Regions from separate parts of the Homo sapiens genome. Here region 1 is reported to be linked to region 2. Evidence: microRNA targets listed by miRTarBase, many of them from high-throughput screens and not tested one by one. Region 2 holds a microRNA gene; the other region holds the end of a gene's coding sequence.

Region 1 (4,389 bases), not on the chromosome of region 2:
CATTTACAGCCACGGAAATTGATAAGATGCCACCAAAGGAATTAATGGGCAAGCAGAGTAGAACTGCTTGAAAAAACAAATGCCACTATGCCATGCAGTGTCACTAACCTAAGTAACCTTAGGTCAGTCATTGTCCCCTCTGAGACTTTCCCTATCCAAACAATGAGATTGGATTAGGTCACCACTAAGGTTCTCTCCCTAACATTTAGTGATGCCACTGTTGCAATGTGTGGCTTTTACATTATGAGGCTACACCAAGAGCCAGTTCTTCAACTTGCCCTGCAATCAGAAAGGTCCTAATGGGTCTCCTATAACAGAAGCCTCACAGCTGGGGATGCCATTTCCTCTCTAACCTCTGGAAAGACTGACCACCTGCCTGCTATTCTCATTGCCTGCTACTATGTAAAAACTTCTGGTGTCAGTCTCCATCTGCTGGGGGGAAAATCACTCTCAGAAAGAAACACCTTCTCCTGCCAAGGCTTTGGGTGGGGCTTTGAAAGTTGTTTATGACAACACTGAGTCAGCACATTCATCAGGGTCAAGCTCACAGTTGGAGGGAATTGGAAGAGGGCCTTAGTAGAGAAGAAACCTCCAGCTGAGGCTTCTTCAGTCTCAAAGGGAATGGAATCAGAATCCACAAATTCATAATGGAGATTGGCAGGGAAGCATTGGCACCATGCTCAAATCAGCGGTTTCCTCCCAACGTGTTAGGCAGTTCAGATTAGAACAACAAAAAAGTACTAAATTTATGGACTTGATCACCCCAAGAAGTCATAAAAGTTCAAAACTGGTTTTCAAAAGCTGCAAAATAGGATTATGTGAAAACAAGCTCTTTGGGGAAGCGCGTCTAAACTACTGAGACTACTGAGCAGGGGTAGCTGGGTTCTCCCCAGATGTGTATCTTAGGGTTTGTTTCTGGGGCCGGAGGGATCACAGATCTGACCTAGTGTGACATTTACATGCATTAAGAATCAACATCCTTTCCTCTAATTGAGTTGTTTTGTTGCCTGAATCCTTAGGGTTAAAATAAGGGTACTTGGCTGGCCTCTGAAAGTACAGGACACCTTTATTAGCCTCTGAAAACGCATGGTTTCTTCTCATCTCTGAGGGTGAATATACTAAGAATTCTTATAAATGGTATTTCCCTGTAAGACAGGTGATGACAGTGCAGGCACAGCTGATGGGGACTGCAGTCAAGTCGAATGGAACCCAGTGACACATAAGCCCTCCCTTCTGAGTGCTTCCTCACCAAAATCACACTTTGCTTTTTCACACAACATATATTTATTCAGAAAAAAATTTGCAATAAATTATAATAAAAAAGATGACACGAAATATAGAATCCCACTAGCAGCTTTGCTTAGTGATCAAGACGTTTTTGGGAAATATAACAAACAATTACAGAATAAGAAAACAGTGAAAGGGAGACTAATGCAATGTCACCACATGGATTTGAACCATTTCTTCCCTAAGACAGCAGGTGCAGAGTCTTTCCCTACCAGCTGAATCCGAAATCCTTACTTCAGAGCAGCTACAAATTAGTACCTTAGAGGACTTGGCAATTACAGGTTGGGGTGCTGGAATAGCCATGGTAGGGAAGCAGATTTCTTCTGTCTGGGTCTACATCTTGTCTCCTCTACCTAGAGATTGTCTAAAACTCTCAACTCTGTATATGTTCCAGGATGAGCTGAAAAAAGGTCGAGGCAGTACACCAACTTAGTGTTTTGATCTGATGTAGAAAGAGATAGGATACTGCATACGTGCAGCACAGAGCCTCCACTAACCACACCCTTGATCACCCAAAGATCCCAGGTCAGTGATATGCTAGAAAACAAGCCCAGGAAAGGTATTTCCCTGTGGTATGACCCTACCCCAGTGTCTATCATCTGCCTCTTTTTGTGATCACTTTCTGGCCTTGCGGAGATGACAAACCTGTTCTGCTCTCAGTCTTCCATTAACTAAGTTCAACACCTAGCCCCTGACCTATCATACCTCCAGATCTGTGGCACCAGTAACTTGACTCCTATTGCTTTAACTCTCAATCAGGAAAGGGTTTAGCCATATTGCAGAATACGTACCTTCCCCCCCACCCCCACCAAGAAACAGGAGAAATCACTGGTGGTGCCTTGGATATGCTAGAAATGTCACAGAGTCAATGCCCAGGATTGTACATACAGCCTGTACGTTATGCTCCTTGCAATTAATGTAAACAGGCAAGGGTGGTTGTAACAAAAGAAAACCAGGAGGAACCCAACTGCATCAGGCAGTTTTGCAGTCAGTGGTTGGTGGCTTGTTTGTCAACCAATATAGATTAATTTATTTTAAAAAAAGGCTGTACCACAGAGCTTGAATAAATGAAAAGCTCAGAGGGTCATCTTGTATGGGAGAGGTAAGGTGCTTGGTTGGTCCTGTTGGCCAGTCTCTTTACACAACACTGGATATGGTGACTGGGAGCCAAGGGGAGTCTCTAAACCCTTTATGTGAAGGAGCTGGTTGTAGAGCCCAGAGTCAGTCCTGCTGAGGAAGGAGGTGACATCTGCCCTTGGTATTTCAGAAGACCAGAGAATGGATTCTAAGGGTCATCCACAATACCTTTGCTGTGGGAAGGAGCAATAGCTCTAGATGGGCCTGCCTGAGGTACAAGACTTCCTCTTTTACTGTGGGGCCAGTGTTGCTCTGGAGGTGGATGTCTAGGCAGGAGATGGGTCTCAGAGACACCCAGGATTAGTCCTTGTGTAAAATTTGAATAATAACAGGAAAAGGATAGTGGGAAGCAGGACCTGTCAAACATGAATGCTCTCACTCTTCAGATACTCAAAGTGCTTCCATTCTGATTGTGATTCTCTCTCATCGATGAGATGCCATCTCTAATAGTCCCTACAGTTATGCTACTAAATGTGATCTAAGAGAATATGGTTCCACCCAGTGTGGAGCCATGAAAAGGCCAATGTTACAGAGACATAAAGATGCCATTGTAGTAGAAATGCACAAATGCATGTAATAACTGCACGCAGACAGTGAATTCACTGTTGAGGACACCCAAGGAGTCACTAGCCTCACTCAGACTTCGTTCAAAGTGACAGAACGAGGGGAGTGGAGTGCAAAGGAGTGATCCAGGAAGGGGTGGGTCAAAAGTGCAAAACAAAGGACTCTAGACAAGTCTCAGCTACAGCAAGTAGTGCTTGTAGGCCTAGAATGGGAAGATCTCAGAATCTAGGCCTAGGGTACTAAGGACAATCATGACAATTGGGTAGGAGGGCAACAAACACATCCCTAGGTGAAGGAGTGTAAATACAGATCTTTTTGCCTTATAAAGAGAAAACACAAAAACACCAAAATATGGTAACTTTGGCTTGGCAATATAAGTCTAAAAGTATTTTTCTGTGTAGGATATGGTAAAGGAGGGATTAGGAAACGCTCTTCCTTTTTACTATAAACAGAACTTGAAATTCTGCAATAGACCCTTCCTGTGGCATGACTTTTTAAATCATTCTGAAATACTTGGAGCCCGAGATCGTCTGCTTCTAGAATATCAGAGAACAGTAAAAGCCTTAGTCTTCTTCGCTCCCAAGCAGAAAGCCCAGAAGGAACTGAATAGCACGCTGGCGGTCACTTGGAGTCTGTCTTGCCATAAGGTTGGGTGGAGGCCTCAGGAGAAGACTAGTGAAGAGAGTAGCTACAAGACGAGAGAAAGACAAGCGGAAACTTCTGTCAGACATAACCTAAGCAAAACCTCAGGGCTGGAGGGCCTGGGGACAAGGACTATTGACTGCCATGTGCCTGCATATGCAGTAAGGTATATACTGGATACAATGCACTAAGAGTATTCTCAACAAACGCCCCGTGTTGCATGAAGCACTCTTACCGATCATGTTGGCATTGACGCTATTGTATTCAGAGAATTTTAAGAGTTCTCGAAGGAATGCCATCAAGTAACGGAAAACATTTCTATGGCATCTCGGAAGCTGGGAGATCACCTGTTTTTAAAAATAGGGGCAGGCAGTGAGAAAAACAGGTGGAAGATGAAAGTAAGAGGAACTTACAGCTGCTGTAATAGTAGTCTATAATCCAACCCTTGCAGGACCCATTTCATCTGTCTAACTTCTATTATCTCCTCATGGCCAACACAATACCTTCCAAATTATAACTTCAAAGTAAGAGTGGCCGTGCTGTTTGGTCCCTGTCCACTCAATGACCAGGCCACGTGGTCATCACACATTCATACGCACACCCTGCCTCACAATAGGTCAGTGTTCATCTGTTCTTTTCCCATTTCCGTAGGCATGTAGCCACGGCACCTACCAAGCTGAATGGTTTTCTGTTCTTTTTTGTTTGAATGGTTTTCTTTACAATGTCACTTAGCATGGATGGGGACTCCTCTCAATACTC
Region 2 (4,389 bases):
CGCATCTGGCCCACCGTGGAGTCAGGGCAAGGGCCTAGGTCAGAGGGAACGGGACGCCCTCCCTCCAGATCATGAGGCCTGGACAGCCGGACGGGGATCAAGACAGTTGCCAGGGAGGGATGGAAAAAAGAAGAGGTAAAGCCACTGCTGTAAGAGGCTAGCCCCATCTCAGTGGCTCAGCCTGTGAAAGTTCATTTCCTGCTCAGTCACAGTCCAGCGCCAGCACTGCTGTCAGGGTGGCCTCCCCTGGCTCCCTCCCTCCTCTGGCTCTGCCCCCTTGAAGACCTCTGACTTCTCCTTGTGCAGCCGCCAGACAGGGAAAGACCAATTCTTCATCCTTCCATCTGAAAGCAGCACACCACGCCTTGCACAGAGTCCATAGGGGAGAACTAGAAATTCGGCCCCACATATACACAAAGGGTTCTGAAAAATGGGGTTCCTGGCTGGGCAGCTACTTCTCAGCCAGACACTCCACACCGAGGAAAGAGGAGCCTGGATTTGTAACGGACTGTGGGCCAGGTCTGCCTCCGGTACCAGCATCCACTGTATACCTCTTCTGGGCTGGGCTTCTCATCTTTGCAGCCACTGTTGAAAATGAAAGACAGCTATTTTTTATGTTTTATGTTTTTGGGGATAGAGTTTCGCTCTTGTCACCGAGGCTGGAGTGCAGTGGCACAGTCTCAGTTTACTGCAACCTCCGCCTCCCGGGTTCAAGCGATTCTCCTGCGTCAGCCTCCCGAGTAGCTGGGATTACAGGCACTCGCCACCACACCCAGCTAATTTTTGTATTGTTAGTAGAGACGGGGTTTCACCATGTTAGCCAGGATGGTCTCGATCTCTTGACCACGTGATCCACCCGCCTCGGCCTCCCTAAGTGCTGGGATTACAGGTGTGAGCCACCGCGCCCAGCCAGGGCTTTTCTTGATGTTAAAAGTTCTCGAGAAGAAGGAGACTTCCAGGACTTTCCAGGGTCCCATACTCATTTGAGAGTGCTGAGATTACAGGCGTGAGCCACCACGCCAGGCCTAGACCCATTTTACACGTGAGAAACGGAAGAAGCTCAGAGATGTCCAGACTCAGCCGGCGGTGGCACAGCTGGCTGTGAAGCTGGGTGCTCGCAGGCCAAGGCCACGTCACTTTCTCTTCCCAGCTCACCGGGTTGTTTCTCTAGAAAATGCCCGAGAGATGGAGACAGACAAAAAGGAGGAAGTAGGGGCGTGGTGAGGGAGAGAAAGAAAAGACAGGGGAGAGAGGACAAGCCAGAGAGAGGCACAAATGGAAAGAGAAAATCTCAGAGCCTCACAGTAGTGAAGCTTGAGATGAGAAAGAACGGTGACTCCGTCTCCCCACCCACCCCACCTTCTCCTGCAAAAATGACTTGTCTCCCAGGGAGGGCCACTGGGCATCCCCGTTCCACACCCCTGCTGGCTTCAGGGCCAACCCTAGGTCACCTCCCCTGAGCTCCCCCTGCTTGGTCTCACCTCTTTGTGGGAAGGTCTGGCTTTAAATGTGCCCCAGATACCCAAGTTCAAATCCAGCCTCTGCACTTACTACTGACAGACCTTGAGCGATTGAGGAGCTCAGTGAAGATGCGGTGGGTGAATGAAAGCACTTTGTAAACCCCAGCAAGAGATGGTTCTGGGTTGCCTGTTCTCAGGGGCGAGATGGGGAGCAGCTCAGGGAGCATGAAGGGGATGGCGGCGTGAAGCCCTGCTGGCTTCCTGCCCTAGACAGTGCCCCGAGGGAGGGACGGGAAGATATAAATAAGACACGTAAAGGCCTCTGTGCTTCCCAGCTGCCCTAAGTCAGGAGTGGCTTTCCTGACACGGAGGGTGGCTTGGGAAATGAAAAGTGAATGGGTTGCTAAAATGTTTTACTTCCCCGGTGTTGTTGGTGGGGCTTTAATGAGGAGCCATGCATCACTTGGCCCCCTCGCCCCGGCAGATGATAAAGGGCCACCGCTCCCCGCGGGCCTCAGAACAACCCACCACTGCCTGGCTTGTAAATTGTTATGGCCCAATGAAGAGCTTGCCCTTAAATGTCACTCACCCAGGAATTAAGGTGAAGACAGGCACAGGGACTTGCCAGTGGCACGGCCCAAGGTGGGGGCTAGCAGGAGTGGGCCCTGCAGGATGGGGTGAGGGGCAGACTCCTCGGGAAGGGCAGTTGGATACCAGGTCTGGGGTTAATGAAAAGTGCCCCCTGCCCCCTAAGTGATCATTATCTCCAGTAATTATCCTTGCTCCTGGGGGGAAGCAGGGAGGGGCGCACTGAAGAGCTGTCATTAGAATGGACTGGCTAAAGAATCCAGACCTGGCGCACTGGCCTGGGGTCCTCAGCCTCTCTCCCCCTCTCTCTTCCCCATTCCATCTCCCCGCCACCCCACCTGTCTTCCTCCCCACCTCCACCTCTCTCCCCCCTCCCTGCCAATCTTTCTCTCTCAACCCAGTTGCCTGCATGGTTCACAGGTTTCTCTTTGCCCTGTGGACCCCAGGGTAGATTGAGAAGGAATCTTAATGAGTCTGACTCAGGCCGGCATCACGCAGGCTGCCCCGCTGTCTAGCTTCATTTTCTAACTTTGGGGGCACGGAAAGGTCGGCTTCCACCTCTTCCCTGGAGGCCCTTCTCTAGAAGAAGGTAGAACTTCAGGTGCCTTCCAGGAAGAAAGTGAGCTTTAGGTGCTTCCCAAGCGTGACCCTCTTCCCTCTCCTGTAACCTTTTAGCATTGTGGAATAAATCTCACGTCCAGAAAAGGGCATGAAACAAATGTTTCATTAACACATTATTTCAAAGCAGAGTAGCCACCACCTCAGTCACAGACCAGAACCTCACCAGCACCCAGCAGCTTGCGGATCCCTTCCCGTTGACCTTCTCTTCCCCAGAGGTCCCAGGCAGTCGCTTCCTACCTTTCTCTGTGTGTTCCCTCAACAACGTGCTTCAGTTTTCCCTGTTTCTGAACTTTATATAAATAGAGTCCTGCAGGATGCGGTGGCTCATGCCTGTAATCCCAACACTTTAGGGGGCCAAGGTGGGTGGATCACGAGGTCAGGAGTTTGAGACCAGCCTCACCAACACAGTGAAACCCCGTCTCTACTAAAAATACAAAAATTAGCCAGGTGTGGTGGCACGCACCTGTAGTCCCAGCTACTCGTGAGGCTGAGGCAGGAGAATCGCTTGAACCCAGGAGGCGGAGGTTGCAGTGAGCCGAGATTGCACCATTGAACTCCAGCCTGGGAGACAGAGCGAAAAAAAAAAAAAAAAATAGAGTCCCATGTACGCATTCTTTCGTATCTGGCTTCTTTCAGCCAGCCTGGAGGTGTTTGTGTGACTCATCTCTGTGGCTCGGGTAGTCACAGTTCATTCATTCTCATTGTCCTAGAGAGCTTGTCACTGTCTGCATGCTACAGCCCTGCCACCCATCTCCCCAGCCCACATGTCACCAGCTGCAGCATCTTCAAGTTTTGGGGCTCCTGTGCAGGAGGGATGTGACTGATCCTTCCTGCCAGGAAATTCCCCTTAGGTCTAACCTCTTTCTCCCTCACCCACACTTTGCTGGTTTGCTGCCTCTGATGAAGTCAGGGGAGAGGAAAGATACAGCAAAAATAACACATCAATAGCATTTGCAAGGCATTTTTCAAGTATGAAGCACTTCTTAATACACTAATTAAGTGAGATGGTCATTATCATCCTGTTCTAAGCATTTTATATTTTTAACTCATTTAACCCTCAGAACCACCTTTGAAGTAGGTGCTATTATTATCCCTATTTTATAGACATGGGAACTGAGAAGTTAAAGAATTTGTCCAAGGTAGGGTTGCCAGATAAAATACAGAATGAGCAGTTACATTTGAATTTCAGATAAGCAAGGAATTTTTTAAAGCATAAATATATCCCAAACACTGCATATTAAATTCAAATGGGCATCTTATATTTTTGACTTCCTGAATCTAGCAACCCTAGTCCAAGGTCACAGTGCAAGTAACAGTAAAGCCAAGATTCAGACCCCAGCTCCTACCCCACAGCCTTGTGCCCTTAGCCACTGCTCTCCTGTTACAGTGGGACCACACTAAGGCCCTGGCGTCCAGGGAGAAAAGCAGATGCATTTGAAACTGTTGAGTAAATCAAACAAGCAAGGCTAGGAAACAGATTTGCTATGGAGGCTAAAGGAGAGGGAGGAATTAAGAAAGGAGTTCAGGCCGGGCACAGTGGCTCACGCCTGTAATCCCAGCACTTTGGGAGGCCGAGGCAGGTGGATCACCCGAAGTTGGGAGTTTGAGACCACCCTGACCAACATGGAGAAACCCCATCTCTACTAAAAATACAAAAATTAGCCGGGCATAGTGGCGCATGCCTGTAATCCCAGCTACTCGGGAGGCTGAGGCAGGAGAA

What was found. The annotated mature microRNA hsa-miR-4462 reads UGACACGGAGGGUGGCUUGGGAA and lies in region 2 at 1,822-1,844, shown strand. An mRNA with a match to its seed (bases 2 to 7 or 8) in the 3' UTR can be bound and repressed. Matches are read on the target gene's strand: a 7mer-m8 pairs with bases 2 to 8, a 7mer-A1 pairs with bases 2 to 7 and ends in A, and an 8mer does both.
Region 1: the mRNA of OCRL is a reported target of hsa-miR-4462. Seed matches in the 3' UTR shown: 7mer-A1 at 1,326-1,332.

Annotation. Positions count from the first base shown.
Region 1 is chrX:129,589,433-129,593,821 of GRCh38, reverse strand. OCRL (OCRL inositol polyphosphate-5-phosphatase) reads right to left here. Exons shown (of 24, transcript NM_000276.4): 23 at 3,866-3,977; 24 at 1,266-3,676. The coding sequence ends at 3,552. Among named protein-coding and RNA genes, the nearest start is that of OCRL, 51 kb to the right of the region's middle.
Region 2 is chr6:37,552,821-37,557,209 of GRCh38, reverse strand. It overlaps MIR4462 (microRNA 4462), which reads left to right and starts at 1,788; the gene lies at 1,788-1,845. RefSeq lists enhancers at 1-91, 302-401, 512-561, 1,112-1,201, 2,828-3,328 and a silencer at 3,183-3,477.